7 separate regions of the Homo sapiens genome follow, and all the other regions are reported to be linked to region 4. The links are microRNA targets in miRTarBase. Many come from high-throughput screens and were not tested one by one. Region 4 holds a microRNA gene; each other region holds the end of a gene's coding sequence.

Region 1 (4,393 bases), not on the chromosome of region 4:
CTAAGCTCACTACAGAGGGAGAACTGGGGCTGCAGGGACTTAGGGGCTGCAAGCCATTTGTGGTGAGAAAGGTGACCTCTTTCTCCTTTGCAGGACCTGAAGGAGAAGAAGGAGAAGGTGGAGGAGAAGGCAAGCCGGAAAGAGCGAAAGAAAGAAGTGGTGGAGGTGTGGAGGGGTGGGGGAGAGGACCACATCTGCCCTACCATCTTCCCTCCCAATCATCTCATCCTTCCTCTGCTTTCCTTCCGAGGGTGCTGGGTCCTGCCGTTCCCCTGAGCCCTGTCACCCTTGCTGCCCCACCCTGTGGCCCATCCCAAGCCCTTTTATCACCCAGGCTCCAGTCCCATTGGTGGTGATGGTGGGCAAGGCATGCAGCCAGCCTGAGGCTACTCCCTCTCCTGGTCCCCACAGGAGGAGGAGAACGGGGCTGAGGAGGAAGAAGAAGAAACTGCCGAGGATGGAGAGGAGGAAGATGAAGGGGAAGAAGAAGGTGGGGAGGGGCAGGGGAGGCTGGGCTGGCAAAGTCTGGGCTCAAAGGAGAGCAGAGTCAGGGTGGGTTTGAAGACCTGAAGCAGGGCTGAGGGCGACCACGGGGGCTCTGCCAGAGCTTCCTGCCCTTCCCCAATGACCCATTTCTGGCTCCTCAGATGAGGAAGAAGAAGAAGAGGATGATGAAGGGCCCGCGCTGAAGAGAGCTGCCGAAGAGGAGGTTTGGGCTGGGTTGCTGGGCCTGAGGGGCTGTCAGGGATGCAGCCGGGCTGGGCGCCCTTTGGATTTGGACCCAGATCCCTGTGTGGCAGGGGTGGGGGCTGGAACAGGACCGGGACAGGGGGAGGTCTCCCCTCCCATTTTACAGCTCCCCCATTCTCTCCCTCTCCACAGGATGAAGCGGATCCCAAACGGCAGAAGACAGAAAATGGGGCATCGGCGTGAGCCCCTGCCAACAGGCTGGGGTTGGGAGGCCTCTCTGGGCCTGGAGGTGGGGGTGGGGGCAGCCAAGTCCAGCCACTCTTCACCTGGCTCCCTGCTCTGGGCCCTGCACCAGAGCTGCCACCCTCTTCTTTCTCCCCAGCCTTCTCATTTCCGCCTCTCCAGACACTGCGCCCTCCACCCTCACTCTGCCATTGTTCCACCTCCTGACCTGCTCCATCTGAGCTCTCCAGCTGGCCCCCAATTGCTCCTCTCTCTCTTTGCTCTCTTTCTCCCTCCCCTACCAGCCTCATTCTTCCTCCGGTAGCCTCTCCCACCTAACCTCTGCATCCCCCAGCCTCATGTCCTGCCCCATCCCTATCCTGCCTGATCCCTGGATCTCCCTCAGATCCCCTCTTCTCAGACAGCGCCAGGCCGGGGTGGGGCCGGGGTTGGGGCCGAGCCCCACAGCTGCCCCCCTCCCCTCCCTTTTTGTATAATTTAATAAAGAAATGGTCGCGCTTCTGTTTTTAACCTGTCTCCTGCTTTCCCGGGGGCTCCAGTCAGTGCGACAAAAGGGTAGAGAGGGAGGAGGGTGGCTGACCTCCCATTCTGCCAGGACCCTTCCCTTTGATACAAAAGCAGCAGCACACTCCTACCACCCACGACTCAAGAAGACAAGATCAGCCCTCCAGGGGTGGCCTGGAGCCCAGCTCTTCTGAGAGCTGACTTATGTCCTGTTTTGGATTCTCAGGGATGCTCCTCCCCAGCAATACACACTTCCCTGCTAACCCACACAAGACCTAGACACTGCTGAGCCCAGTGGAAAGCTACCAGCTCTATTGTGCTGAACCAGGCACAGAGAAACAGCCCAGAAACAGGAAGTCCTTCCCCTGAGCTGGGAGAGGGCTGGTAGTCCTGGGTCTCAGCCTGCTAGGATCTGGAGTGAGCTGCCTGGCATCAGAGATGCCCTCTGCCTGGCATGGAAGCGAGCTCCTTCCAGTCAAGCAGGGAAATCCTGGGTCTCGTGTCATCCCCAGGTCGGCTGTATGTTTCGTCACCTGCCCTCCAACTCTCCCTGGGCTGGGCTGGGGAGCGGGAGTTGTATGACTCTTGTCAGTCTTGGGCCTTCCCTAGTCCCACTGCCTCTGTTTCCCCTGAGTTTGATCTCTGTTAGGAGATTTCTAAGATTTCTGCATTTCTCCATCTCCGCATGGCCCTTGCCTTCTCCTCTTAGTTCGGAACCTCTGGACTGGAGGATGCTTCTGAGGGCATGGGGACCTGAGTTGGAGTGGGGAGGGGTGTTGACTCATCAACAGCATCATTTCTCCCAGGAGACGCCCGTAACTCATCCAAGGTCAGGACTACACACTGTCACGCACACAGGTACACTCACAGCTTTTATCTTCACGCTCCCTAACCTTGGCAAATTGTACAATTTCTTTGAAGCTCAGTTTCCTCATCTGTACAATGGGGAAAAGCATTAGATTTCATGAATTACTATAAGTAAAGTGTCCAATACAGTGCTTAGCACGTAATGAAGCCTCAATACAATGTAGTTATTCTCCATGCCCCACAAAGCTGGCATGCCTAGCCTCAGACCTACCATTTTTTGGGGTGCAGTAAGGCTTCCTGTCCACCATGTTCCCAGGGACATTGTACTGATGGGTGGAAAGGCAGGTCTAAAGGGGTCACGAAGTTCTGGGAGGTTAAGGGAACGAGGAAGGAGATTGAGCAACAAGGAAAGAGCTTGCCAAGAAGGAGGTGTGAATATTGGGACTGAGGAGGCAGCTTAGAGATGGGCAAGGGGGCAGTTCCAGGCAGAAATGGTTCGTGGAGGCAGAAGGTCCCTGGGAGAGGGAGCAGTCTGGAGGGTGGGGCAGGGGCGAGGAGGGGGAGGTGGGGAGACCCAGGACTGAGGAAGTAAACAAGGGGAGCGCCACCACAGAGGTGGAGAGGTGGAGGGTGCTGCTGCTGGGAATCAACCCCCTCAGACTTTCCACTGCGAAGCGAAACCGTAAGCCCTGGGGTGCGGGGGGCGGGCCGGGAGGAGGGGAAGTGGGGAAGGTGGAGGGAAGGCCGGGCACAGGGGTGAAGGCCCAGAGACCAGCAGAACGGCATCCCAGCCACGACGGCCACTTTGCTCTGTCTGCTCTCCGCCACGGCCCTGCTCTGTTCCCTGGGACACCCCCGCCCCCACCTCCTCAGGCTGCCTGATCTGCCCAGCTTTCCAGCTTTCCTCTGGATTCCGGCCTCTGGTCATCCCTCCCCACCCTCTCTCCAAGGCCCTCTCCTGGTCTCCCTTCTTCTAGAACCCCTTCCTCCACCTCCCTCTCTGCAGAACTTCTCCTTTACCCCCCACCCCCCACCACTGCCCCCTTTCCTTTTCTGACCTCCTTTTGGAGGGCTCAGCGCTGCCCAGACCATAGGAGAGATGTGGGAGGCTCAGTTCCTGGGCTTGCTGTTTCTGCAGCCGCTTTGGGTGGCTCCAGGTAAAACGGGGATGGCGGGAGGGTTGACCTCCAGCCCCACAGGAGGGGACCAGCAGGGATCTCTGTGGCCACAAAGGTCCTGAGGTCCTTAGCTCTGTGGATTCTTCTAATCCCTTTTTTGGGCAGTCCTTCCACCCCGAAAGCCTCTCTGGGCAGAGAAGAAACAGAAACCCAAGTTCTTCCTGCACCCTGTTTCTCCCTCGGGAAACACCCAGGCTCCTTCTCTACCCCTGCCTCTCGGCTCACGCCCCCTCCCCTTGGCCTCTCTTTTGCTCACCTAGTGAAGCCTCTCCAGCCAGGGGCTGAGGTCCCGGTGGTGTGGGCCCAGGAGGGGGCTCCTGCCCAGCTCCCCTGCAGCCCCACAATCCCCCTCCAGGATCTCAGCCTTCTGCGAAGAGCAGGGGTCACTTGGCAGCATCAGCCAGACAGGTATGCACCCCAAACTTGGGCAACAGGACCTCCGAATCCAGCACTCAACCCCACACCCGTGCCGGTCCTCTGTCCCCTGCCCTGAGGTGTCACTCCCTCTGAAGCCAGTGACCCAGTCTCCCTGCCCTCGCTTGCACCGTTCCTGCCCTTGCTCTGCAATCAGCGACCCTCACGCCAGCATCCCTTCTCTCCAGAAGTGGATGCGGCCAGTCCAACAGAGGGGTCGGGCGTGAGGGGACGGTTGGTGGTCAAGAGAACTCTTGGGGCGGGCTTTCTCATCCTCAACGGGTGGCTGCCTGCATCCTCCCGGGCTTCCTACCCCTGGAGCTTCTCAACTCCATTCTCTTTCCCGCCCAGTGGCCCGCCCGCTGCCGCCCCCGGCCATCCCCTGGCCCCCGGCCCTCACCCGGCGGCGCCCTCCTCCTGGGGGCCCAGGCCCCGCCGCTACACGGTGCTGAGCGTGGGTCCCGGAGGCCTGCGCAGCGGGAGGCTGCCCCTGCAGCCCCGCGTCCAGCTGGATGAGCGCGGCCGGCAGCGCGGGGACTTCTCGCTATGGCTGCGCC
Region 2 (4,436 bases), not on the chromosome of region 4:
TGGGAGGCTGAGGTGGGAAGATGGAGGATGGCTTGAGCCCAGGAGTTCGAGGCTACAGTGAGCCATGATCCCACCACTGCATTCCAACCTGAACAGAATGCAGAATGCAACCTGAACTTTCAAAGATAAAGGAATGTGTGGCCCAGCAGTGTGTCCTCCCATGCTCATCCCCTCGACTCCGTACAAGCTGGCAGCCAGCACAGACCTCCCCACCAGTGCTCAGCTTGTGCGGAGTCCTGGAATCCTGACTTGAGTCTAAGTCCTAGGGCTCGTGAGGAAGGGCCGCACGTGCGGTGACAGGGTCCCTCTGATAGGTTATATGCCTCTGCTTTTCAGGAAGGCCCGAACAAGACAGGAACGTCCTGTGCCCTGGACTGTGGAGCTGGCATTGGGAGGATCACCAAGCGGCTGCTCCTGCCGCTGTTCAGAGAGGTGGATATGGTCGACATAACGGAGGACTTCCTGGTTCAAGCCAAGACCTACCTGGGGGAGGAGGGCAAGAGGGTGAGGAACTACTTCTGTTGTGGGCTCCAGGACTTCACCCCGGAGCCGGACTCTTACGACGTGATCTGGATCCAGTGGGTGATAGGTGAGGGTTCCACCGCCCTTCCCTGCTCACCTGTATGTCTCCTGCCACTCGCGTTCCCCATAAGGTGTCAGGACCAGGGCTTTGCACTCCTGCAGCAAGTGGGCCAGTGAGGATTCCCCACCCCGCCCAGGCCCACCCCCACCCCGTACTTCCCAGGACTGAGGGACAGGCTCGGCCTAAAAGGTAGATTTCTTCCTTCTAGGTTTTGTTTCAGTTGAATACCTGCTACCATCCATTTGGGTGCAGTTTTTTGTTGAAAAAATTTTAATGGCCAATAACTTACTGCATTCAAAGTGAGGAGTTTTATAAGGGTTTTATTTTTAATAAGATGAATAGTTTAAGCTTCGTGTCTAGCCCTGCACCCTCTTAGCCTAACAGCACACCTCGAGCGCTGTGCCCTGGGCTGCTGACGTGGCGGCAGGCCGCTAGCAGCAGTCGGCCACCTCCTGAGGCGGGCAGCACAGGCCTGCTGTGGACACTCTAGGTCTGGCCTTGTATTTTGTGGTCTCAGAAGCCTTTGTGGGGACTTCTAGTGTAGGGAAGGCAGTCTCTCTGGGAGCTCCTGCAATGCCAAACTCTTAGCCCAGGTTCACTCCTCCGATCCAAGCCTGGCAGGGGTGGGGCATCATGGTGTGTAGGTATCAGGCAGGACTTGTAAGCCATCCCGTCAAGTCAAATTCTGGCTTAATGTGTCTTTAGGTAGATGACCTCTGAGCCACAGTTTCCTATTCTATGAATTGGGGTTTAGTAAATCTCTCGGGACTGAGAGCCAATGAGGCCATGTGTGCACACAAAATGCTGGGCACAAATGAGGGGCTCAGCGGGGCTGAGAAGTACATCCCATCCAGTGCCGACATCCGCTTGCATGGTGCCCTGGTAACCTTGCCTCTGCCCTCCCCAGGCCACCTCACCGATCAGCACCTGGCCGAGTTCCTGCGGCGCTGCAAGGGCAGCCTCCGCCCCAACGGCATCATCGTCATCAAAGACAACATGGCCCAGGAGGGCGTGATTCTGGACGACGTGGACAGCAGCGTGTGCCGGGACCTTGACGTGGTCCGCAGGATCATCTGCAGTGCAGGCCTCAGCCTCCTGGCCGAGGAGAGGCAGGAGAACCTCCCCGATGAGATCTACCATGTCTATAGCTTTGCCCTGAGATGAGCCGGGGCTGGCAGGAGAAACTGAGGAACCACAGTCCTGGTGGGGGGAGCTGGCAGCTGGGCAAGATCCAGGCGCCACGCTGGCGGTTCGTGAGTGTCGAGGCACCACTAAATATAGCTGTCTGCCGTCCACTCATTATGCGGGCTCTTCTTCAAAAGGCAAGGTGGGACCCGGCGGGGAGGGTGCTGCTGAACCAGCGGTGAGGCAGGAGCCCAGACCCTGCTCTCCTGCGAGATGGGATTGGGTGGAAGGGGCTCCAGGGCTCCTGGTGCTCCCCATGTGGGAATAGGGTGGCCACATCAGTAACCGATTCCCTGGGCCTCCAGCCCGGCCTTCCAGCCATGGGCCTGGCTGCCTGAAGAGGAAGGAAACCACCCCCAACTTGGTTGCTGGGGACTTGAAGACTTCAGTGTGATCTTTACCTAGGGGAGGGACAGAGCTGGGCTGGTGGAGCCCATGGGTGCTGCCTGATGGTGCTGTGGGGTGGGTGCTCATGTGCCAAGTCCTGCTTGGCAGTGGAGACCTGGGGCCCTTAAAGTGTTACAACAGCCTGCAGCAAGGGAAGTTCCCCGTAGCCTCAGTCTTCTCTGGGCTTGAGGCTGCTCCTTGGCAGGCATTTAAAGTAAAAAATAAAATGGGGCTGGGCGCGGTGGCTCACGCCTGTAATCCCAGCACTTTGGGAGGCCGAGGCGGGCAGATCACGAGGTCAGGAGATTGAGACCATCCTGGCTAACAGGTGAAACCCCGTCTCTACTTAAAATACAAAAAAAAAAAAAATTAGCCAGGCGTGATGGCGGGCGCCTGTAGTCCCAGCTACTCAGGAGGCTGAGGCAGGAGAATGGGGTGAGCCCGGGAGGCAGAGCTTGCAGTGAGGTGAGATTGCGCCACTGCACTCCAGCCTAGGTGACAGAGCGAGACTCTGTCTCAAAATAAAACTAAAATAAAATGGGGGCCGGGCACAGTGGCTCATGTCTGTAATCCCAGCACTTTGAAAGGCCGAGGCAGGCGAATCACCTGAGGTCAGGAGTTTGAGACCAGCCTGACCAACATGGCGAAACCCCGTCTCTACTAAAAATACAAAAATCAGCCAGGCATGGTGGTGGGCACCTATAATGCCAGCTACTCAGGAGGCTGAGGCAGGAGAACTGCTTGAACCTGGGAGGCAGAGGTCGCAGTGAGCCGAGATTGCACCATTGCACTCCAGCCTGGGTGACAGAGTGTCTCGAAAAAAAAAAATAATAAAATGGGACCTCCACACTGTGGAGGCCCTTGCCAGTCTAGAGTGGTGCTTCTTTGCAGGGACTTGGAAACAACCCCCCAAACACAGCATCCCCTCACACCTGCCACCCACTTCCTTACCGGCTGCTGTGGGAGCCTCTATCCTGAACTATGGAGGGGCGGGGTGGAAATTTTATATAAGGACCTTGTTAAGGCCAAGAAAGTCAGTTTAATCTTATAATATAAATATATCATTTAGTCACCTCAGCTTATCCCCAGAGGTGTTTACACAATTCCCAATGACCAGTGCAGCTTGGAAGGGACTGAGGCTCGCAAGTGGGTGGCACAGTCGGCTCTTCAGTGGCTCCAAAGTGAGCCCCTCACAACAGGAGACACTTCAGAGAGGTCTGTCCCCAGCCACGCACTCATGATTGCTTTTTAGCAGAAGTCATGGTCGCTGAGGCCCTGGGTTTGGCAAAAGCACAGCTGCCAGCAGAGCACAGTTCTGGTAGGTGGGGCCACGGCTGACCTGGCCCCAGAGCTACAGGAACAGGCAGGGGCCAGCTTGGCTTGCAACACCATGAAACAAGCCTGTGGGGCCCTTAGTGTCTTCTCCCGCAGAGCCCACCAGAAACACTTCTGTGAGTAACAGAACCTGGAAGGAAAAGGGGCAGGGGTGGGGCCTTGGTGGCACCGCACAGGACGTGCCCCAGGCTTCCTCTCCAGCTGCACTGCCACGTGCGGCCAACAAGAGCCCCGCAGCCCTGGGGTGCTGAGGCTTGGTCCTTCCCAGCTTCTGCAAATGCCCTGGCACTGCCCTCCAATTCAGAGGGTATAAACATCAATCCAAGCCCTGTTCCTCTTTCCAACATGGGGGGGACTTGGAGTGCCGCTGGAGGGAAGGGGGCAGTCTCTCTGGAAGAACCAGAGCTGCACCCTTCACCACTGGAGTGATCACAGCTTCAGGCTCTACCTGGCTGGCTTTTCTCATGAAGGATCCCGTCTCATCTCCCAGATCAAAAAGACCCTCTTCTAATGCTGTCCCAGCATCTACCAACAGGCTGACCTGAGCTGCCCGTGTCCCCCGTTCCTGTAGCCTGAGACCTATCAGATGTCATCTTCCACGGAGCCACTGTGCTCGCTAAGGAGGTACCACTTCAGCCTGTCGGGCAGAGGCAGGGCTTTGACCTTCACATCCACAGGCCACGGCTGAAGGTAGAGCCGGATGGCCACACGGCACAGGTGCTTGAGGGGCGGGGGATAGCTCTCCAGCTGCCTCAAGGAGAAGTGGAGGGCCTGGATCTTTTCCGCCAGGCTGCCCACAGGGTGGATATCGAAGTTTTCGGGCAGCTGGAGTTTCTGAGAGTTGGTCACCATGAGATCCAGGACAGTCTCAGCTTTGCGCAGGAGGTCCGCATGGCTCTCGTCTTCCGTGCAGCCTGGGTGGGAACAGAGCCTCTCAAAGATGATG
Region 3 (4,436 bases), not on the chromosome of region 4:
TTATATCCCGAATAACTGTAAAGTGCAGTGCTTTATAACCCTCATTTAGAAAACTACTCCTTTTAGAGACTAATAAAACACAACCTAACCAAAACTACCCTGACCTTGGGAGTCAACGAAGCCCAGCATCTTCTCTGAGCAGTGATAGCCAGTCTCCTAGAGGGCCCAATGATATCCACCTCCCAGTATTCACATCCTTGTGCAGTCCCCTCCCACACTATACCAAGCTGATTCAATGGTTGGTCTGTGTGACTCATGGAATATGGCAGAAATAATGTCACCTGAGGCTACGTCATAAAAAAGTATGGTTTCTGCTCACTTTCTTATATCACCTGCTCTAGGGGAAGCCACATACCAGTTGTCCACCAGGCAACTGGTGCCCAAGGAACTGAAGCCCAAGAGCCACGTGAGCATCAGGCACTGTGTGTGATACCCACACAGTGAGGAACAGAAGCCCAAGAGCCACGTAAGCAAGACATCTTGGAAATGGCTCCTCTAGCCTTGTCAAGCTTCAAGATGGTACAGTCCTGGCTAACAGCTTGACTGCAACCTTCTGAGATCTCAAGACAGAACCACCCAGTTAAGCAGCTCCTAGATTCCTGATCCAGAACTGTGGAAGGTAATACTTGTTTGTTGTTTTAAACTACAGTAATAACTGAGACACACTAGACAAGGATCACTCATTGCTTCTTAAATGAAAAAAGCAAAAATCTAATTATAACAATTTTGACTAGAAATATTAAATACTGAATTCTGTTAAAGAAAAAATCTTAAATTCATGTTTGATAAAAAGCTTAAAAGCCAATTCCCAACTCATTGAACTACCGTACTCCTTCCTTACAAGGAAGAAAAACAAAACACCTGAATATGTTGTCTGTAGCCAATAAACATTACTAACTAGATTGCAGCCTAAAGTGTCAAGTATTTCTAATAATTACATTAAAAATACAGCAGCAAGACAGTTCCTTGGATCTTACTTTTTCCCTCTCATTGGAACTGAATTGTAGATATTGGGCACTGTACCTAGCAAGTCACAGAAGATCTGAATTAGGATGCCTTAATTACACTTGGCCTATTTTAATGATTTTAAAATTAGATCTTAAATGTGAAAGTAAATAAAAGCAGTAAGGGAAACACTACACAATGAGTATGTACGGTTGCTGGCTGCAGAATTCAACAATACAGTTTTGACATTTACAGATATCACAGATCACTACCAGAACATCACATAAGTTTATTTCAGATGTAACAGCAATGTTAAAATTGACAAGTTTAATTCTTAACTGCACCAAGTAAACTTAGCCATTTAAGTATTTTTTTAAGTTATTCCCTCCAAAAAACTGAGGGAGCTTTTCTTTTCCACCACCACACCATGGTTTCCCAATAGTTCTCTTTTTGGAGGACTTTTCAATTGATGAGTAAACTGCTTTAGATATTTCAGAACTTCATTCCCCAAATGAAAGCTAATCTGGACAAACTATATATTGCATAGATTTCTCTACAGATTCTTTGCTTTAAAACCTAAATGCAACTAACATAGTGTAATTTTAACCTATTTGCCCCACAGTAAAAACTATCTGTCCTGAAAAATATGATGGATATATCCTGTGATTTTCCAGTTAACAGAATTGTTCTACTTCAAAGATAATTATTATCATATATCAAAATAACCAGCTCAACATAGGACATTACTTCAGTCTTTACTGACTCATAGGCATATGAACTTGTGCCCAGCTTTTTACCTCTTCCACATTCTCCTCCTCCTCCATAAGTGGATGGAATTATTTAACTAAGTTTGATGTAGGACAATTAACCCTTTACAAACATTTACAATTCAGGTTAAGTCACTGACTACCGTGGAAAAAGAAACTCTATATATAATGATAGGGAGCCTACACACTCAATTCAAAATTTAATATTTTTTCCTCCTTAAATAACATGTACTTGTCATGAGGCAGCTATTAGGTTTTCAATAACCACATTTAGGGATACATTCATAGGACTGATTAGATAGTCCAGGTGAAATGGTTATAGAAATAGAGGCAGTGTCATCTCAGAAAACCATTTATATATCAAAGTCTATTTTGATATCTGGGAAGTTTACAAAAAGGCTGCTGCATTCTTCAAACTACTTATGCCTTCTGTAACTCAAGCACTCTTCTCTTGCCAAGAGCAAGCTGAAGCTTATTCATGAAGATAAAGGTGCTTAACGCTAAACTTTTCTTCTAAGCTTAGATTTGGATTGTTTAAGAAACGAATACCCCCAAAAAACCAGCAAGGTCTTTCTACATTTTTACCATCTTAAGATTAGAACCCTATAAACTCATTCATCAACTGTCTTCTTTTTCTGTATTATTCTTGGCACTCAAGATTGTTGAAGTCTACTGCACTTTGTACTTTCACATTCTCAAATAAAAACTTAAGGTTATAAAGTGTGCATAAACATTTTATAAAATAATTTTGTCATTTAACATATTTGGAAATGAGACTTTATACCGCAATTTTACATAAGAGGATAAATATGAATGAAACTTCCTTTTAAAGTCAAATGACAGAAAGCTCAAGCCCTGTGCATTATTTTAAAGTCTGAGAACATTTCTAAATAGTGGAGATGGGACTACAAAAGGAAAACATGAATATTTCAGATGTCTCCCATCTTACAAAGTTATCAATCTGTCAAAGCCACTCCGTGTGTGCCGGAAAATGATCTGGCATAAACCAGTCCTCTCAGTGGAGGAGGTCACAGTGACATTTGTATTATTAACATTTTACACTTCTATTTTTCCAAGAATAGAAGCAATATGTTTAATAATTACCCCTGCCTCAAATCCTTAAACTCAATATCACAGGCACTGAGTATAAGCAAATCTGGGATGTCCTCCAACAGATGTGCAATAGCACAGCTATGTTATTCTCAAAAATACTATTTTTTCCTATAAAATCAAATGCTCAGTGGCCACACTTTTAACAGCTGGCATTAGATGACAGTAATTGAATTTTTTGTGTCACAGCCCATCTAAGCTTCCTTTTAGGTATTTTTTAGTATGTCCAAGAGAAAACACCTGCTTCAGGTTTATTTAGGGGTAGTGACCTATAAGGACATCAACTCAATTTTTAAGGTTAGACTATTGTTGGGTTTACTGAAGAAAAAGGAACGGGAAAAAATTAAATCACAACACACCTCTTTAGGTCAGTTAAAGGCCATATCTCTAGCTGGGATATTAAAAAAAATTAATCTCACCAGCCCAAATTCTAAAAGTTAATGCCACTAGTAACAATCAACAGCAGGAAAAACAAACCTGCTAACAACCAGCCCACTCATTAGCAAAAAAGCAGTTTAACTCAAATACTTAGACCAAAGTATAACACTAAACCAAACTGCCCCACCCACCAGCAAGAAGAGAAGATATAATTACTTAAAAATCAACATAAGCTTAGTATTTCTTACAAGGATAACAATGTTCCAACTCCCGAGAGAGTGCTCAGAAGGACTAAAGGTGGAGTGAAGGCAATGTCTAGGGATTAGTATCCCAAAGTGTTTAAAAACCCAAAGTACCACAAACACACTCAACTTGTCTATGAATTAGAGAACAAGATACTGCTGCTGCTTCTTTTTGTCTTTTGAAATATACAATGTTTTGTAGGCTCTGCCCTTCAATGTGAAAGCAGGACATTAAATTTGAAATTATTTGACAATTAAATGTTTAGGACCATCTAACTTCAACTGCAAAACTAAACAGATCTACCTTGTCCTTCCTTCAAACCACCTCACAAAAATAAGAGAAAACAATTCAAACATGATTATTTTTTTAAAGTCCTTGAAAGTATTAAAACTCTCAGAGAAAAGGAAAGGAAGAAAGAAAAACAAGAACAAGGAGGGAGAAAAGCTTTAAAAGAAAAGTGTTGGGGTGGGGGAGGAATCAATGGGCCTCTCTTTTATTTGGCGACAAGCAAGTGCAAGAAAGTTCATTTGTAATTTGTTCAGTTGTCTGTCTTTTGCACATCTGCATTCTGACCAGAAGGAACTTTGAGGTTTTTCTGCAGCACATGAGCATCTGCGGGCTCTATCCTCTTATAGTAGTTCTTCTTTGTCTCAATAATCTCAAAGCCAAACTTCCTGTAGAAGTCAATTGCCGACTCATTGCTGATCTGGACATGCCTGAGATATAAGAGAGTATCAGAAAAAAAATTAAAATTAAGGTTTCATCAAGTTTTAAGCATTCTCCACAGATAGCTCCAAACATCTGTTACATTCTCTTTACAACTACCAGTAATCAACAAGGGTTAGGCATGCTTACCTAAAACCTTTTGATGACAATTTTACACTTTTAATCTAATTTTTACATTTGTAAGACAGCTGGCTGAGATTAGAAGGCTCAGTGTTTATTCTTGTAGTCAACAAAGGGAAAAGTACCACAGCTATCAAAATTTTTTCA
Region 4 (4,436 bases):
CAGCCAGAGCCCAGAGTGGGAGAAGTCCTGGCACCCACCTGCAGGTTGGCCTTCTTCAGCCGGTCGTTGATCAGCTCCGTGTTGCCCTGCTCCTCCTCCAGCTCCTCCTCCAGCTGGGCGATGCGGGCCTCCAGACGCCGCTTCTCCTCTAACGCCAGGGCTCTGCGGGGTGGGCGGGAGAAGTGAGGGGCCTACCCTGGGGACACACCTGGTCCCCCCCAACTCTGCCCCCTCACTCAGCTCACCCTTTGCCGCTGCTGTTGGCGATCTCGTCAGCCAGCTCATCCCGCTCCTGCTGGGCCTGGCGCTTGGCACGCTCCGCGGCTGCCAGTTCCTGCCACAAAGACCCAGAGTGTGACCTAAAGGCAGCCACAGCCCCACAAGACCATCCTTCCCAGCCCCAGGCACCCTCCCCTCAAGCCCTTCCCCAGGCCCACCTCCCCACGAAGCCCTTCCTCCAGAAACCCTCTAGCTCACAGGGCTGGTGCCCCCCTGAAGATATAGCTTAAACACCATATGTTTATAAAACTCTTACATTTAAGTGCTAGGAATCAAGCCAGGTGCCAGGGTATGGCGATAAGTAAGAAGTGTCCTGGCCTAACCAGGGAGACCACGTGGACAGAGTCACTCAGGGCGGCCCCTCCCTGTTCTGGGTAAGCCAGAGCTTGGAGTCAGCTCTGGAGGCCACAGGCAGATGGCTACACCCTGGACGCACTCGCAGCCGGCACATCACGCTGCAGGGCACCCTCCAGACCTGGGAAACACTTCAGGACGGGCTCAGGTGCGACGGGCAGGGCGGCCGAGGGGACGCTCAGACCCCTTCTCACCAGGCAGCATTCACAGCAGGAGGTGGTGGTGGCCACAAAGCCTCATCTCATGTGAGGGATGCCAGTTTCACACACACACACACTCTGATCATACGAGGGAGCCCCGCTATGAAACGGAACCCTGGAGGGAATCCTTATGTAACCTGAGAGCCATCCCCAGCCAATTCCTGGAGCCCAGTAGGACTCCAGCCCTGTCCTCAGCTGAAAGCCCCACGCTGCCACCTGCTGGCCGCAGGGCAGCGGTGCCGCTCTCCATTGCAGCCCCACCCACCTCCTGCAACTGGATCATCTCGGCCTCCATGCTCTTCAGCTTCTTCTCGTTCTCTTTGGCCTGGGCCAGGATCTCCTCACGAGAGGCGCGGGTGTCATCCAGCTCGCGCATGCAGTCCTTCATCTGGGCCTGGGGTGGGGACAGAGGCTTGGCACCCCACCCAGCTCCTTGGCCCTCCACCCCAACCCTCATGGGTCACCTCGCCAACAGGGCTCATGGCTGGTGCTCCACTCAATGCTGTATTTAACCAACTAACCGTGGTGACAGGGCAAAAAGGCAACTAAAGACAATCATCTGTGTATCCCACCCCGTAATGCACACTTTGACAGTGTTCGTCACCGTGGACGTGAGCCCAAGCTGAGCTTCATTTTCTACTTTCTGTCCCCTCCTGTGGGCCGGAAGCCAGTGCCCATGGTGCCACCCCTAATGCGCACCTGCCACTCAAAACCAGTGCCCAGCCTGCCGGTCCATCCCCACCACAGGCAGGAAACACCTTTCCTTTTGTTATTCTCCTGTTACTTCTTTTAACACTAAAGACCTTTGTCAAATAGCCTTTTTTTCCTTTTGCAGATAAATCCGAAATTGAGATTCCCCAAATCAAAGAGAGTGACTGGCTGTGTGCAGCCCGACCACACCAGTAAAAAAATGCCACCAGCAATCAGAGCATCTATGCCCACAACCTTGACCACAATGAAGTTTTAAAGTTTTTGTGGGTTTTTTTTTTACACTTAACATTTTTTTTTTGGCCGGGCGCAGTGGCTCATGCTTGTAATCCCAGCACTTTGGGAGGCCGAGGCGGGTGGATCACAAGGTCAGGAGATTGAGACCATCCTGGCTAACATGGTGAAACCCCGTCTCTACTAAAAATACAAAAATTAGCCGGGCGTGGCGGCGTGCGCCTGTAGTCCCAGCTGCTGGGGAGGCTGAGGCAGGAGAATGGCGTGAACCCGGGAGGCGGAGCTTGCAGCAAGCCGAGATCATGCCACTGCACTCCAGCCTGAGCGACAGAGCGAGACTCCGTCTCAAACAAACAAACAAAAAAAAATTTGTTAAACTAAGGTTATTCTTGTTACATGATATGGCGTATCAGAGCTGTTTTTACGTGTTAATTATTCTTTAATTATTAGTGAGGTGAAGATTTCCAAGTATGTGTCCCACACTCCGGGCTGCTTCTTGGAACCATCGCCCCAGAGCCCAGAAGGCTGAAGGGTGTCAGGACCCGGGTGATTCTGGAAGTCTGCATTAAGTGAGACCTTCTTGAACTCCACCCATGTCTAGGCTTGTACTTGTTTGCTTCTGTGTTTTATGTACCCAGTCATACACCGTTTTGCAAGTTTGCTGTTGGACTATCATGTTTCCACTCACCTCTGAGCCTCTGAGTCTCTGTCAGTGAGATGGGGCTGGAAGCACCCAGGACCTTCCCAGGAGGTGCCACCCTGCCAGGTTCCCGCCCTGGGCCGAGCCCTGGCACCTTCATATGTAGTTGGCTCAGTCGGGTGCCGCCCACCCTCACCTGGGCCCCGCCCACCCTTACCTGCAGCTTCCGCAGCTGTTTGATGGCTTCGTCCCGGTTCTTGTTGGCCGAGTCGATGTGCGCCTCCAGGTCCTTCAGGTCCATCTCCAGCTTCTTCCGGGCGGCCACTGCCATCGAGCGCTGCTTCCTCTCGTCCTCCAGCTCTGCCTCCATCTCCCGCACCTGGGGGAAGGAACATCAACAACTTGGGAAGCTGGACCCACTGGGAGACCCTGCCCTAGCTCTGAACTCAGGAGCCTCAGGCCAGTTCTGCAGGATCCATGGGGCCTCGGGAAACCAGTGGGGATTACTGACCATAAGAACTCTAAGAAAGTGAGTCACTGAACCCCGAGACAGGAGGCTAGAAAGAAGGAATATGGGAGGGGAGGCGTGGTCAAGGGGCCCTAACACAATCCAGGTGGAAGGAGAGAACAGAAGCCTGCGTGAAGCCAAGGCAGCCTTGGGCACCCATGGGGTAGCAGGAGGCCATGCACACCTGTCTGACCAGCTGCTTCTTCTTCTCCTCGCTCTGCTCGTCCCGGCCCTGCAGGTCCCGCTCGAACTGGGCCTTCATGGCCTGCAGGTTGACCTCCAACCGCAGCTTGGCATCTTCGGTGGCCTGCAGCTCGTCCTCCAGCTCTTCCAGCTGCGTCTTCATCTCCTCCACCTGCTGCTCTAGGGCCCGCTTGGACTTCTCCAGCTCGTGGACCTGAGCCCCAGAGAGCCCAAGTCAGGAGCAAAGGGACTGGCAGGTACCTGGGTCTGCGCGACCCGGAGTCTGTGCACACACCGACCCTCTGTGATGACCCCACTCGGGCCCTTCCCAAGACCTGGCTGCCAGGCCCAGGACTCACACTCTTGCCCACATCATCCTTGGAGCTCATAAGGTCCTCCATCTCCGTGCGGAACTGCTTGTTGAGCCGCTCCAGCTCCGCCTTCTGCTCCATGGCTTCCTCCAGGGCCCGGGCCAGCGACAGAGCCTTGGTCTCCTTCTCTCGGGCCTCCGCCTCAGCCCGGTCGCGCTCCTCTGCATACTTGGCAGAGATGGTCTTCTCCTCCGCCAGGAGCTGGGAAAGAGGTGGGCACCATGAGGCTCAGAGCTACGGCCCCCAGCAGGGCAGGGCAGCTGGGCCTAAGCTCCCTGGGGAAGGAGGAGCCCAGAGGCCACGGTGGAGAGGAGCAGGCCTAGGAAGCACAGGCCCAGGGCTGTGCCCAGGACAATACACACAGTCCCGTGCATCCTCATGATGGGATGACTGCCGACTGGAGCAGGCACTACTGCGAACACCATGTTGTAACGTCTGTTTAATTTTCATCACTTACTAATCGCAACCCTTTATGGCACGCTGCCCCTTCCATGAGAGCCCTCCAAACCTGTAAGAGCTTTGGTTCTCCTGAACCACAGCTGGCATTTGGTTGGCACTTTTCACGAAGTGAATGCCAAGCTGGCTGCCAAGAAGCCTGAACCCCATTTGTGGTCTTCTCTAATGACAGCTGCTGTCCCCTGGCATCTGTTCTCTGTGTGCACCCACCTGGCTCTATCCTATTTCCCCACCTTCCCTTCCTTTTGGCCCAAACCTTAATTATCCCATGGGTTGCTGACCATTTCCTAAAGGGCCAGATAGTGCATTCTTTAGAGTATGCAGGCCCTACAGTCTCTGCAGCAATGGCTCAACCCCACTACCACAGCACAAAGCAACCAGAGACAACATGAGAACCATGGAGCGTGGCTGTGTTCAGTCTATCGTTCCCTACAAAATGCAGGGGCCGGATCCGGCTACCACAGTTGGCTGCCCGATGTCTTCTACTGTTCTATCCTGCCCCC
Region 5 (4,436 bases), not on the chromosome of region 4:
TGTGGTGTGAGATGAAGCCAAGGAGACAGGTCGGGGCCAGGTCAGGCACACCTTCAGTGGCTGTGCCAAGGACATTTGGGGGTGGCGATCATTAGTGAGCTACTGAAATGTTTTAAGCTGGGACAGTGTAGAGGAGGTTCATGGCATCCTGGGTTTTGGAACAGTCCCTCTGATCACAGTGCAGAGGCCAGTTAGGAGGCATTCTCTGGGCACCATTGGTATGCAGTGAACACCATACTTAGTGGCCATTATGGATTCCTGAGACAGCTGCTTATTATTCTAACAGGATTGGCTTTCCTCTTTCCCCAGGGCCTACTTGAAGAAGTGGTCAGCTAAAGGAATCCAGGTTGTTGGTTGGACTGTTAATACCTTTGATGAAAAGAGTTACTACGAATCCCATCTTGGTTCCAGCTATATCACTGACAGCATGGTAGAAGACTGCGAACCTCACTTCTAGACTTTCACGGTGGGACGAAACGGGTTCAGAAACTGCCAGGGGCCTCATACAGGGATATCAAAATACCCTTTGTGCTAGCCCAGGCCCTGGGGAATCAGGTGACTCACACAAATGCAATAGTTGGTCACTGCATTTTTACCTGAACCAAAGCTAAACCCGGTGTTGCCACCATGCACCATGGCATGCCAGAGTTCAACACTGTTGCTCTTGAAAATCTGGGTCTGAAAAAACGCACAAGAGCCCCTGCCCTGCCCTAGCTGAGGCACACAGGGAGACCCAGTGAGGATAAGCACAGATTGAATTGTACAGTTTGCAGATGCAGATGTAAATGCATGGGACATGCATGATAACTCAGAGTTGACATTTTAAAACTTGCCACACTTATTTCAAATATTTGTACTCAGCTATGTTAACATGTACTGTAGACATCAAACTTGTGGCCATACTAATAAAATTATTAAAAGGAGCACTAAAGGAAAACTGTGTGCCAAGCATCATATCCTAAGGCATACGGAATTTGGGGAAGCCACCATGCAATCCAGTGAGGCTTCAGTGTACAGCAACCAAAATGGTAGGGAGGTCTTGAAGCCAATGAGGGATTTATAGCATCTTGAATAGAGAGCTGCAAACCACCAGGGGGCAGAGTTGCATTTTTCCAGGCTTTTTAGGAAGCTCTGCAACAGATGTGATCTGATCATAGGCAATTAGAACTGGAAGAAACTTCCAAAAATATCTAGGTTTGTCCTCATTTTACAAATGAGGAAACTAAACTCTGTGGAAGGGAAGGGGTTGCCTCAAAAGTCACAGCTTAGCTGGGCACAGTGGCTCATGCCGATAATCCCAGCAATTCAGAAAGCTGAGGCAGGAGGATTACTTGAGGCCAGACTGGGCAATATAGCAAGACCCCATCTCTAAAAAATTAGGCATGGTGGTGCATGCCTGTATTCCCAGCTACTCAGGAGGTTGAGGTGGGAGGATCACTTGAGCCCAGAAGTTCAAGGCTGCAATGAGCCATGATTACACCACGGCACTACAACCTTGGTGGCACAGTGAGAACCTGACTCTTAAAAAAAAAAAAAAAAAAAAAAAAAAAAAGATAACTAGAACTTCTAGAACATCTTGTTTACAGTTAGCCAGAAACTATACAAGTGGTTTAACATGCATTATCTTACTCAATCCATACAAAAGTCTTATGGAGGTGTTAGCACTCTTTCTACTGATGAAGAACTGAGGTACTTCATAAAACCACTTACCCAAGGTGTCTTGAGTCTGGTACAACTGGCATTCAAATCTAGGTCAGTCTGCCCCCAGAGCCACTACCCTTACCCCTCACTGAATCTGCCTTTATATTGTTGAGCCCATGACCCCAAACTGCTCTTTCCAATTTGAACTTCCAGGGATTTTATTGTGAACTTACATAGCAACATTAAAATGAAGTTGAATTGTTTTTAATGGCAACGCCGTCTGTCTCCTCTAGCTTACCGCTTCTCACCTTTCAACCCCATCTGTGGCCTTTGTCCAGGCCCACAGCTTAGCCATGGCTTCCCTCCTGCATCCCTGCCGTGGGTTGCTGGCCTCACACTTGCAGCAGCTGGACAGTGATTTTAGAAGGCCACCAGTCCCCATAGCTATGTGACAATGAGAAGCAAACTTTTTTGTGACAGATTGTATTGGCATAGGCATGATAGATGGGGATTGGTACGTTTTGAATCAGCATTTGCAAAAAAATTGTCTTGAATTTTAAAATAAACAACAAAGATTTGTTCATTGAGTGCAACAAATGTCTAAACTGCATGTACTTCCGTGCCATGTTATGACTAGAGTGAAAGGAGGAGGAAAAAGTGACCAAAGAAGATACATCAGGCCAGGCGTGATGGCTCATACCTGTAATCCCAGCACTTTGGGAGCTGAGGTGGGTGGATCACTTGAGGCCAGGAGTTTGAGACCAGCCTGGCCATGATGGGGAAACCCCATCTCTACTAAAAATACAAACATTAGTTGGGCATGGTGGCACATGCCTGTAATCCCAGCTATTCAGGAGGCTGAAGCAAGGAGAATTGCTTGAACCCAGGAGTCAGAGGTTGCAGTGAGCCAAGATTGTACCACTGCACTCCAGCCTAGGCCAGAGAGCAAGACTCTGTCTCAAAAAAAAAAAAAAAAAAAAAAAAAAGATACCTCTGTTCAACACTAGCTGTTCAACAGGCTGTTCAACACTAGCCTGGGCAACATAGTGAGACCCCATCTCTACAAAAAATTTACAAATAGGGGCTGAGATGGGAGGATCACTGGAGCCTAGCAGGTTGAGGCTGCAGTGAGCTAGGATCGTGCCACTGCACTACAGCCTAGGGGACAGAGTTTGACTCCAATCTTTAAAAATTTCATAATAATAATAATATCCCTTTGTGTTGTGGGAAGATCTCTGGAGAGCCATGAGATCTCTGTCTCTTGATCTTTATCCCAAATCCATTTTACCTTTGATTCAGCCAGGCCAAATTAAGGATTTAGGTCCTATGCTAAGATGGTCAGGGCCTCAAAAGGTGGAGAATTTGAATGATGAAATAAGGTATTAATAACTACTATTAAGCACTTCCTTGGAAGGCTTAGTATAGGGTTAATAACAGGATTTGGAATCAGAGAAAGCCAAGTCTGCCTTCCTATTCAGCAACTTACCAGCTATATGACCTTGGGTAAGTTACTGAATTTATCTGTAAAATAGGGGTAGTATTCTTGCGGTGGTAGTGATTAAATGAAAGAGTGCATGTAAAATCCTTGCTAATTAACATTTATTGACTGCCTACCATGTCCTAGACTGTTTAAAATGCTTTCCATGTACAGTAGTTTCTTTATTTTTTGAGACAGTCTCACTCTGTCACCCAGGCTGAAGCGCAGTGGTGCGATTTCAGCTCACTGCAACCTCTGCCTCCTGGGTCCAAGCAATTCTCCTGCCTCAGCCTCCTGAGTAGCTGGGATTACAGGCGCTTGCCACCACGCCCGGCTAATTTTTGTATTTTTAGTAGAGATAAGGTCTTACCATGTTGGCTGGGCTGGTCTCGAACTCCTGACCTCAGGTGATCCGCCCACCTCAGCCTCCCAAAGTGCGGGGATTACAGGCATGAGCCACTATCCACTGCATGTACACCTCCAGGAGAAGCAGGGCTGCACTGAAGTGGAGACAAGGGATGGAGGTGAAGGGAGAAGCATTCTAGATGGAAGCACTTAGCATCTGGTGAATGAGCAGAAGTGATGCTTTCAGAGAGAGTTCAGATTTCATTGTAGAAGCCCAAGCAGCAGCCGGGCATGGTGGCTCACGCCTGTAATCCCAACACTTTGGGAGGCTGAAGCGAGCGGATCATCTGAGGTCAGGAGTTCAACACCAGCCCAGCCAACATGGTGAAACCCCGTCTCTACTAAAAATACAAAAATTAGCCGGACCTGGTGGCACGCTCCCGTAATCGCAGCTACTCGGGAGGCTGAGGCAGGAGAATCACTTGAACCCAGGAGGGGGAGGTTGCAGTGAGCTGAGATTGTACCACTGCACTCCAGCCTGGGAGACAGAGGGAGGCTCCAACTCCATCTCAAAAAAAAGCAAAGAAAAAAGCACAAACAGCACTAAGATGACCCCAAGGGGAATAAAATCACTTCCAACATCACTTCCATGGGTTGCCTGCACTGACCCCACAGACAAGTCTCCCTTAGTCCCTGTGCTTCTTCAGAGCATCTACTACAACTGTAATTAATTATTGCTTAAGAATTAAATTCATGTCTAAACCTGCTAGACAGGCAGCACCATGAATTGTTCACCATCTTGCTCACCACTATTTGGTCCATATTTGTTGAATGAATGGATGGATGAACACTACATACAACTGTTACCAAAGATGACACCAAAAGAAATTAATTCCTCCGATGAAGTGAATTAATGAAAAAAATAAGTGAATGAAAAAGTGCGTGGTCAAGTGCAGTGGCGTGTGCCTGTAGT
Region 6 (4,436 bases), not on the chromosome of region 4:
CTTTGAGATTCCTCAGGAAAGACCTTCTGAAAATATGAAGTCACTTATTGTTTACCTCAGAGGTTAAGCAAAATTTTCAATAGCTTGCGAAGTTTTAACTGGTAAATCTTTTGGGAATTTGTCCTAATTTTGTTTCACAAACTGATCTGGAATAAAATAGTAGTTACCACTAGTGGAATAGTACTTACTGGGCCCGGAAACCTTATTGGTTCATAAATATCCCAATGCTCTTTTAACAGCGAGCATCATTACTCCTAGGTCAGAATCACTGTTTATATATAAAAAGTCTCTTACATGAAGAAATATTTTCAAAAATAAAGTTAATAATTGATAACTCTTTAGAGTTTAGTTTTTCTATCTACATGTACTTTTCTGTATTATATATACTGCAATAATATTCCAAAAACAACTTTCAGTGAATGTCCCCAAAGTTCTTGCTATCACTTGCCCAAACTGTGATTTTTTAATTTTTATTTATTTATTTATTTTTGGTTTTAAGTCAAGTTCTCCTTCATGGCTTTGAGAAAGGAAATAATTTACTTGTTGCTTCACGTATGTAATTAAAATTATGCTTTTCCTTAAAATGGACATATTGTCCTAAGCCTCATATATTCACGAAGAATGTAGGGTGGGGGCAGAAATGGAGACACGAAACAACATTTAGTTTAAGAGAGAAATGTGCAGGTCAGCAGGCCCAAACCCCCACAGGCAAGCAAACGGACAAAACCAAGAGTAACATGAAAGGTTTTTAAGCATGAATTGAGGAACAGAAGCAGCAGAGGAGATGATTGGAGCAGCATTTGTTTCCCCCCCCAATCTAGAAATTTTATTTCCTGTGTACACTAGCCAGTGGTTGTAAACAACCATTTAATTGGTGTAAAGAACTTAATTTCAATATAAAGTGACTCTGGGCAGCATTGGTGATGCCGTTTCCGAGTTGTAGCCACTGTAATTGTGAATATTAACTGAGATAGTGAAACATGGTGTCCGGTTTTCTATTGCATTTTTTCAAGTGGAAAAGTTAACTAAATGGTTGACTCACACAAAGTGGTGGAGAAATTGTGCATATGTCATTTTTTTGCTAAAACCTTTTGTTTCAAACTATACTGCTTTAAGATCTCATTTCAGAAGGGCATAGTCTTCAGCCACAGTTGTGATGGTTGTAAATGCTCATAATTGGGCATTCTTAGGGTTTTTTCCATCCCTGGGGTTTGCATGTTGTTCACTTAAAGCATTCCTAAAATGGTTGGCTTCTGGTTTGCAAGCCAGCTGATAATGGTAGCAACCAAAGACTCCAGGGTGTAAGCATATGAAAGACTCTGCTTGCTTGTGCTAGAAATAACAGCATCTAAAGTGAAGACTTAAGAAAAAACTTAGTGGCTACTAGACTATCCTTAGGACTCTGCATTAACTCTATAATGTTATTGCTTTTTTTAAGCATATTTGTCAGAGTAGTCAATATGTTAAAACTGAACATGTATGAAAGTTGCTTAGATAAATGTAATCACTGTAAACATCAAAAAAGAGAGAAACTTGTAAAGCATTTCAGCAGTGCCTAAAGAAAATTTTAAGCCTCAAACACTTTATATATAATCTCATTTAATTCTCACTGCAACTCCATGAAGCAGTGTAGTTATTTTTATGCCTGATTACTAATGTGGCAACAGGCATGAAGTTAAATGCACACAATTAGTAGCAAGAGGATTTGCACAGTTTCTGGCTCCAAAGTCTTTGAAAGTCTTTGTGTTTCTACCATGCAGCTTTTTTCTTTTTTTCAGTTTCCTTTATTTTTTGCTTGCACTTTGATATTTTAAAGGGGACACGAGACAAGAGGCTGTATGCCTTACTTTTGGTGCTGCCTAGCTTATCTTTATACAAATTAAAGATTAACTTTCTCTGGCAACTGGCAAGCACCCATCTTGACACTTCCACATTTTTTTTCACTGCTGCTAAAAGCTGATAGACTTGAACTGCCCCTGCCCGCCAGCACCACAAAACATTTTGCTTGTTTTTTAAGACCGCTAACTTATATGTATTTTAAATTCAAGCCCTACGAGCTTAGAGAATGCCTCATGACTTCAACAAGTTGATCTGACATTTATACCCCAAAACAAATAATGAAATAAAGAATATGCAGAGCACATTCTTTTACCTTTCCCACCATCCCAGCAGAGCATCATAATGGCACCTAAGCATTCCCAAGGGCTCCACAGCAGCCTTGATCAGAACTGCTGTCCACAATTGCAGACTGGCTCACTGAAAAACTGGAAGCATTACTGGACGCCGCTCAACAAAGCTTAGCCCTTTTTGGAACTAGTGAAAGAAGTCATCGATCATGTTGTAATGCATTTAAATGTCTACTCAGATAAACATAAAAACCTGTAAGGTGTGTGCACTAGGATTAGCTGGTCTTCCCTTCTAATTTTCACTTCTCAGTAACCAAGTGAAATTTCAGCCTTGTTTTTATGCCTCAAAACACTTTAGCTTGTGCTTGAGCTTCTTAAAAAATTCAAAATGTTAATTACGCACTCCAATAAGTTAGCCAAATTGGTTGAAAGATACAATATATGTACCTTCCCAAATATTTTAAATATTTCTGAACTTTTTGTTGAGATGTATGGTCTTATCTTGGTACTGAATTAGAAATAAAGTTTGGAAGTAAATTTTGTCAGTACCTAGTTCCCAAACAAAGCTAAATACTTGCACAGATGAATATCCACCACCATGAAATACCAGAGAGAACACAAAATTTACTTTTGCTAGTAAATCAATTAAATTGATTTTTATTTAATGACGAAACCATTCATTGGCAGATTAATGAGGACCAGACGCTTGTCCAATTTAGTTGACACATTTGCTTTTTTATTTTTTAGAATATAGTCTACATCTGGATTAAAAAAAGTTTTAAATAAATTTAAGACATACAACAACAGTGGAACCCTTCATCATTCTATGTACAACACGATAGAATGTCAGTTGGTTCCATTTCGGTTAAGTCCACTTTCTCATAATAATGTTATTATTTTCACTGAGTGGCAAGCTACGTACAAGCTGGCGAAATGCCAGCTTATACACACTGGGGTGGGGGTGGGGACGGGAGTGGCACGAAAGGGATGGGGTGGGGGTGCCATAGGACTACTATACAGTGTAACAGAAAATCATTAATAAAGTAGTACCGATTACCGACAGACAGTGCTGTTTGTGCGCTTATCACAATGGAATCGCTGAAGTTTCAGAGCAAGGAGGAGATTCGAAATACTTCACACAGGGCCAATGTTACAAAAAGAAATAGTGCAAACAGGAAAACTGATGCAATCCTAGCAACGCCTGGGCCTCCACCGGCCCAACCGCAGGGCGGCGGGAGGCTACGCGCCCCGCCTTCCCCAGCACCCAGCTCCGGGCTGCTTTCCCAAGTGTGGCAACCCAGCGCCGCGCCCTGGTATGGCCCCTTCTCGGGCCCTCTCCTCCGAAAAGAACAGAAAAGAAACCCCAGGAAAGGCACAGGCTGAATGCAGGGCGTCAGCCCAGTCCCATTCCCACCAACATAGAATGCAGGCCCCCTCCCAGGAGGTTCCTTGGGCCCTCCCATCTCCGGCCACCATTTTCTTCTCTCTCACACGTGGCCCCCTCCTCCACGCAGCCCCACCGCGCCTCCTGCACGTACGCAGCCCCCCAGTTTGCAGTCTGCCCTTCCCGCCCCCCAGCCAGGAAAAAAAAAAAAAGCTTTGAGGAATGAGAGAGGGTGAGATGGGTCGAAGAAGGTGCTGGGCAGCCACGGGCGCCACGCCTCAGTGGCCCCAATTGCCGAAGCCGATCTCCTGCTTGTATCTGTTAGTGAGGATGTTGGCTTTGCGCGTGAGTTTCGAGAGCACAGTGTGCAGCCCGCGCAGGTGGTAGTGGAACTGCTGTTCCAGGTCTTCTTCGCCGGCGTCCGCACCCTCCAAGTGGCCCAGGTCCACCAGGATGTCCTTGGACTTCCAGGCACTGCCCTCCTCGCTCCCAGCCGGTGGAGGCGGCTGGTGCAGGACCCCCCACTCGATGTCGTTGCGGATGGACTTGAGAAGCACGTAGTGGCTGTACATGTCCCGAGAGGGCGCGAAAAAGCTGCCATTGGCGCTTCCCGAGTCGGGGACTGGGGGCGTGCGCTCCTCCAGGCAGCCGCCACTGCCGCCTACCTCCACGCCAACATCGTTGTCTAACCCGGGGTCAGCCAGGGGCACGTCGCGCAGCAAGCTGGGCACCATCACCGTCTGGTCCATGTTGTTCACGGCGCCAATGAAGCGATTCATGGCGTTAAAGAGCGAGTGCTTCTGGTTGTAGGTGTCGCAGATTTGCATCATGGTGGCCGCGCGGACGTTGGAGCGCAGGGACGCAGGGGCACGGGGATGGTCGGCCGGGTCAAGGGGATGCCCGCCTTCACGCGCTCTCCAAGGCCC
Region 7 (4,425 bases), not on the chromosome of region 4:
GGTGCAATCTCGGCTCACTGTAACTTCTGCCTCCCAGGTTCAAGTGATTCTTCTGCCTCAGCCTCCCAAGTAGCTGGGGTTACAGGTGTGTGCCACCACACCTGGCTAATTTTCCTATTTTTAGTAGAGACGGGAATTCACCATGTTGGCCAGGCTGGTCTCAAACTCCTGACCTCAGGTGATCCACCGGCCTCAGCCTCCCAAAGTGCTGAGATTACAGATGTGAGTCACCACGCCCAGCTACTCAGTTTTGTTGTTGTTGTTGTGTTTTTTTTGTTTGTTTGTTTTTTGTTTTTTGTTTTTACAGCTGAGGGAGCAGAGGTTCAGAGAGAAGAAGTTACTTTCCCAAGCTCACGCAGGTAGTAAATGGCTCACCAAGAGTGGACCTGGGCAGCCTATGGGTCTGGGTGCTCTGTCCTGCCTCTCCGTTTCACAGATAGGATGAGAGAGTGGGAAGGTGCTGAGATTTCAGTTCCAGATGGGATGTGGGGTCTGTAGCCCTGTTAAGTCCCCGCTCCCATGGCCACAGATGCCTATGGGAGGCAGGAGGCAGGTCTGAAAGTGAAGATGTATGAATTCAGCTCAGTTTTGGGAACTGAGGATTGTTCATTACTGGGTATGTACTCCAAGGAAAAATAAACTATTCTACCCCCAACACACCTGCACCTGTACGTTTATTGCAGCACTATTCACAGTAACAAAGACATGGAATCAACCTAGGTGCCCATCAATGGTGGATTGGGTAAAGAAAATGTGGTACATGTACACCATGGAATACTATGCAGCCATAAATAAAACAATGAAATCGTCCTTTGCAGCAACGTGGATGCAACTAGAGGCCATTATCCTAAATGAATTAACACAAAGACAGAGAACCAAATACCGCATGTTCTTGCTTATAAGTGAGTGCTAAACATTGAGTGTACATGGACGCAAATATGGGAACAGCTGACACTGGGGACCCCAAAATCAGAGAAGGAGGGAGGGGGTCAAGGGTCGGAAAAATACCTATTGGGGCCGGGTGTGGTGGCTCATGCCTGTAATCTCAGCATTTTGGGACGCCAAGGCAGGCAGATCACTTGAGGTCAGGCATTCCAGACCAGCCTGGCTAACATGGCAAAACTCCGTCTCTACTAAAAATATAAAAATTAACCAGGCAAGGTGGTGCACGCCTGTAATCCCAGCTACTCGGGAGGCTGAGGCAGGAGAACCACTTGAACCCGGGAGGCAGAGGTTGCAGTGAGCTGAGATTGTGCCACTGCGCTCCAGCCTGGGTGACCGCGAGTCTCGGTCTCAAAAAAAAAAAAAAAAAAAGAAGAAAAGAAAAAAAGAGAAAAACTACCTATTGGGTACTATGCTCACTACCTGTGTGACAGATTTATTCATACTCTAAGCCTCAGCACCACACAATATACCTTTGAAACAAACCTGCACATGTACCCCTTGAGTCTAAAATTAAAAAAAAAAAGGTCAGGTTCGTGGTAATTTTTTATTTGTAACTTTTCTAATTTTTAATTTCCAATTTTGCTTAATTCGAAAAAATACATACCACTTTAGAGCAAATAGGACACAACGTTAACAACTGATAACTCCAGGTGAAGGTTATATGGGGTTCACTGTTATATATACATATATATGTGTAATTTTTTTTTTTTTTTAAGACAGACTCTCTCTGTCACCCAGGCTGGAATGCAGTGGTACGATCTCCGCTCACTGCAACCTCCGCCTCCCAGGTTCAAGCCATTCTCCTGCCTCAGCCTCCTAAGTAAGTGGGATTACAGGCATGCGCCACCATTCCCGGCTAGTTTTTGTATTTTTAATAGAGTCAGGGTTTTACCATGTTGGCCAGGCTGGTCTTGAACTCCTGACCTCAGGTGATCCGCCTGCCTCGGCCTCCCAAAGTGCTGGGATTACAGGCGTGAGCCACCACGCCCAGGTAGGGTTCACTTTTTTAACTTTATTGTTTTAACTTCCCTGTAGATTTGCAAATTTTCAAAATTAAAAAAAAAAAAAAAGGCCGGGCATAGTGGCTCATGCCTGGAATCCCAGCATTTTGGGAGACAGAAGTGGTTGGATCGTTTGAGCCTAGGAATTCAAGACCAGCCTGGACAATACAGCGAAACCCCGTCTCTACGAAAAAATTAAAAATTAGCCGGGCGTGGTGGCCGGCATCTGTGGTCTCAGTTACTTGGGAGGCTGAGGCTGGAGGAATTCTTGAGCCCAGGAGCTCAAGGTTGCAGTGAGCAGTGATCACACCACTGTGCTTTGGCCTTTGCGAAAGAGTGAGACTTTGTTTCAAAAAAAGGAAAAGAAAAGAAACAGAATTTTGATGGCAAATATGGAAATGATCAAGTGTAACGGAATATTTTTGTCACAGGAGAGGCCAGAAGGGGACCGCTGAGAAACGGCATGGTGCCTGCAGGTGCTCAGAGTGTCCAGTAGGGGGAAGCAGAGTCCAGGTTCTGTCTCAGGTTAGGCTTTGAAGCGGGTGGCGGGTGGGACAGACTTTCAAGAATACAATGAATCCTGAGCGGCATGGCTGGAATAACAATAATTATTAAAAAGCGTCCTAGGAATATTAAGAAGGACAGCGATGAAAGAGGCTTTAGAAATAACCTAGTCCTTATTCGGCAGAAGGCAAGACTGAGTCCAAATAGATTTTTCCCAGATTTAACCCAAGGAATTCACGAGAAAGCTTGAAATAGAACCCAGGTCTCTATCTCTTTAGATGTATGGAAAGAAATAAAAGCCCGTTTTCAGAAGGAGAGCTTGCAAAATTTGGTTTTCTTTGGTAGGAAGTGAGTCTCTCTCTCTCTCTCTCTCTCTCTCTCTCTCTCTCTCTCTCTCCCCCCCCCCCCTCTGTGTGTATGTGTATATGTGTGTGTGTGTCTGTCTGTCTGTCTGCCTTGCCTCTTGGACACCAGCAAATGGTGTCAGTGGAGTTCAAGGAATGGTCCTCTTTCCACTGCAAATCTCTCTCTTGTTGTCTTGAACCCCAAAAGCATCCGATTTTATGTTCTGGAGGAGAGAGAGAGAGTCTGGGAGGTTAGAAACAGGAGCTATGGGAAACAGGAGGAAAGATCTGGGAACCATGAAAATTGTAATAAAATTGCTTTATTATTTTTAGTTACTACAAATATATATTATAATATTTACTAAGGAAAAAATCAGAACTCATAACAATAAGAACTTAAAAAATACCCACAATCTTATATACCAAAAGGTAAATGCTCTATATTTAAATACAGGTGTTTTTCATGAAGATGGTATGCAATAATTCTTATGAGAGCATTTTGTGATATGTAAAGTGCATGCAGTCCAGTGTCCAAGGGGTCATGGTTGTAAACAGCGGGTCGAGGGCGCTGTCCATGGTACTGAACCCGGGCAGATGAGGGGAGGAACATCTCTGAGCTTGTTTGGAAGTGCTAGCAGGGAAGTCCAGATAGATACTTGTATGCCTTTGACTGAAGCGTGGTCCTCCTCTATCAGAGAAGGTCGTCCTCTCGTCCTCTTCAACTGAGCATGCAGCTTTAGGAGGGACACATATGGGGCAGTGAGGGAGGACGGGGACACCCGCCTGCTCAGCCAGATCAACCAAATCAATCCTGGCGATCAATGGGGTGAAAGATGTTGCAGTCAGAGTACCCTCAAATCTGGAGCGTCTTTGAAAAATGAGCAGGAAAGCCTAGCCTGATATCATGACAAGCCCATTGGAGCGTCCACGGGTTTCTATTTGAGAATCTCCCAGCACTGCTGTCTCTCCTCTTTCTCCTTGGTAAGTACAGGGCTTGTTTCCTGTACTTACAATGGGAACATTGAGTTCCCATGGAAGGCTCTCAATGGGAAAATGCTCCACCAAGCTTAGCCGGACTGGGATCTCCTCACTCCCAGACTTCTCAGCTCCATGCCTTAAAATGATGTCGTCATTACCTGAGGCCTCTGAATTCGGATCTGAAAAGAGAGATAAAACCAAGTGAGGGCTCAGCCCATGAGGAATTTGGGATTCTGGAAGCATAAGGAGGATTGGGATAGGAAGTGTTCTGTTTAATTATTTTTATTTTTTATTATTTTTTTGAGACAGGGTCTTACTCTGCCATCCAGGCTGGAGTGCAGTGGCACAATCACGGCTCACCATGGCCTGTAACTTCTGGCCTCAAGCAATCCTCCCACCTCAGCCTCCCAAGTAGCTAGGACTACATGTGCACACAACCACACCTGAATAATTTTTAAATTTTTTGTAGAGATGAGGTTTCACTATGTTGCCCAGGGTGATCTCAAACTCCTGGGCTCAAGCAATCCATCCACTTCGACCTCCCCAAGTGCCGGGATTACAGGTGTGAGCCACTGTACCTGGCTATGATTATTATTTCTTTTATAGCAACAGAGTCTCACTTTGTTGCCCAGGCTGGTCCTAAACTCCTGACT

The links. Region 4 holds the annotated microRNA hsa-miR-6819-5p (UUGGGGUGGAGGGCCAAGGAGC, at 1,262-1,283, opposite strand). A microRNA usually pairs through its seed, bases 2 to 8, with sites in the 3' UTR of a target mRNA and lowers its output. Matches are read on the target gene's strand: a 7mer-m8 pairs with bases 2 to 8, a 7mer-A1 pairs with bases 2 to 7 and ends in A, and an 8mer does both.
Region 1: miRTarBase lists PTMS as a target of hsa-miR-6819-5p. The part of its 3' UTR that is shown has no 7-base or 8-base seed match.
Region 2: miRTarBase lists ASB6 as a target of hsa-miR-6819-5p. Seed matches in the 3' UTR shown: 7mer-m8 at 3,731-3,737, 7mer-m8 at 2,587-2,593, 7mer-m8 at 2,227-2,233 and 7mer-A1 at 1,327-1,333.
Region 3: the mRNA of NAA50 is a reported target of hsa-miR-6819-5p. Seed matches in the 3' UTR shown: 8mer at 3,904-3,911.
Region 5: the mRNA of GDE1 is a reported target of hsa-miR-6819-5p. Seed matches in the 3' UTR shown: 7mer-A1 at 1,821-1,827.
Region 6: the mRNA of MID1IP1 is a reported target of hsa-miR-6819-5p. Seed matches in the 3' UTR shown: 7mer-m8 at 3,115-3,121 and 7mer-m8 at 3,078-3,084.
Region 7: the mRNA of MUC17 is a reported target of hsa-miR-6819-5p. Seed matches in the 3' UTR shown: 7mer-m8 at 3,617-3,623.

Annotation. Positions count from the first base shown.
Region 1 is chr12:6,769,510-6,773,902 of GRCh38, forward strand. PTMS (parathymosin) reads left to right here. Exons shown (of 5, transcript NM_002824.6): 2 at 94-165; 3 at 412-490; 4 at 648-709; 5 at 883-1,443. The coding sequence ends at 933. LAG3 (lymphocyte activating 3) reads left to right here and starts at 3,011. Exons shown (of 8, transcript NM_002286.6): 1 at 3,011-3,401; 2 at 3,683-3,830; 3 at 4,188-4,393. The coding sequence starts at 3,344. RefSeq lists a silencer at 4,271-4,393.
Region 2 is chr9:129,633,718-129,638,153 of GRCh38, forward strand. ASB6 (ankyrin repeat and SOCS box containing 6) reads right to left here. Exons shown (of 6, transcript NM_017873.4): 6 at 888-4,436. The coding sequence ends at 4,073. It overlaps NTMT1 (N-terminal Xaa-Pro-Lys N-methyltransferase 1), which reads left to right. Exons shown (of 4, transcript NM_014064.4): 3 at 337-589; 4 at 1,491-2,418. The coding sequence ends at 1,747. Among named protein-coding and RNA genes, the nearest start is that of ASB6, 6.2 kb to the right of the region's middle.
Region 3 is chr3:113,717,779-113,722,214 of GRCh38, forward strand. NAA50 (N-alpha-acetyltransferase 50, NatE catalytic subunit) reads right to left here. Exons shown (of 5, transcript NM_025146.4): 5 at 1-4,159. The coding sequence ends at 3,982. Among named protein-coding and RNA genes, the nearest start is that of USF3, 23 kb to the left of the region's middle.
Region 4 is chr22:36,285,620-36,290,055 of GRCh38, forward strand. MIR6819 (microRNA 6819) reads right to left here and starts at 1,288; the gene lies at 1,228-1,288. MYH9 (myosin heavy chain 9) reads right to left here. Exons shown (of 41, transcript NM_002473.6): 32 at 3,466-3,678; 33 at 3,108-3,320; 34 at 2,633-2,794; 35 at 1,099-1,227; 36 at 246-334; 37 at 39-162. RefSeq lists an enhancer at 777-1,289.
Region 5 is chr16:19,499,491-19,503,926 of GRCh38, reverse strand. It overlaps GDE1 (glycerophosphodiester phosphodiesterase 1), which reads left to right. Exons shown (of 6, transcript NM_016641.4): 6 at 310-2,234. The coding sequence ends at 457. Among named protein-coding and RNA genes, the nearest start is that of TMC5-AS1, 14 kb to the right of the region's middle.
Region 6 is chrX:38,804,851-38,809,286 of GRCh38, reverse strand. MID1IP1 (MID1 interacting protein 1) reads right to left here. Exons shown (of 3, transcript NM_021242.6): 3 at 2,755-4,436. The coding sequence starts at 4,340. The coding sequence ends at 3,789. Among named protein-coding and RNA genes, the nearest start is that of MID1IP1-AS1, 3.2 kb to the right of the region's middle.
Region 7 is chr7:101,057,529-101,061,953 of GRCh38, reverse strand. It overlaps MUC17 (mucin 17, cell surface associated), which reads right to left. Exons shown (of 13, transcript NM_001040105.2): 13 at 3,095-3,951. The coding sequence ends at 3,910. It also overlaps the pseudogene RN7SKP54. Among named protein-coding and RNA genes, the nearest start is that of TRIM56, 26 kb to the left of the region's middle.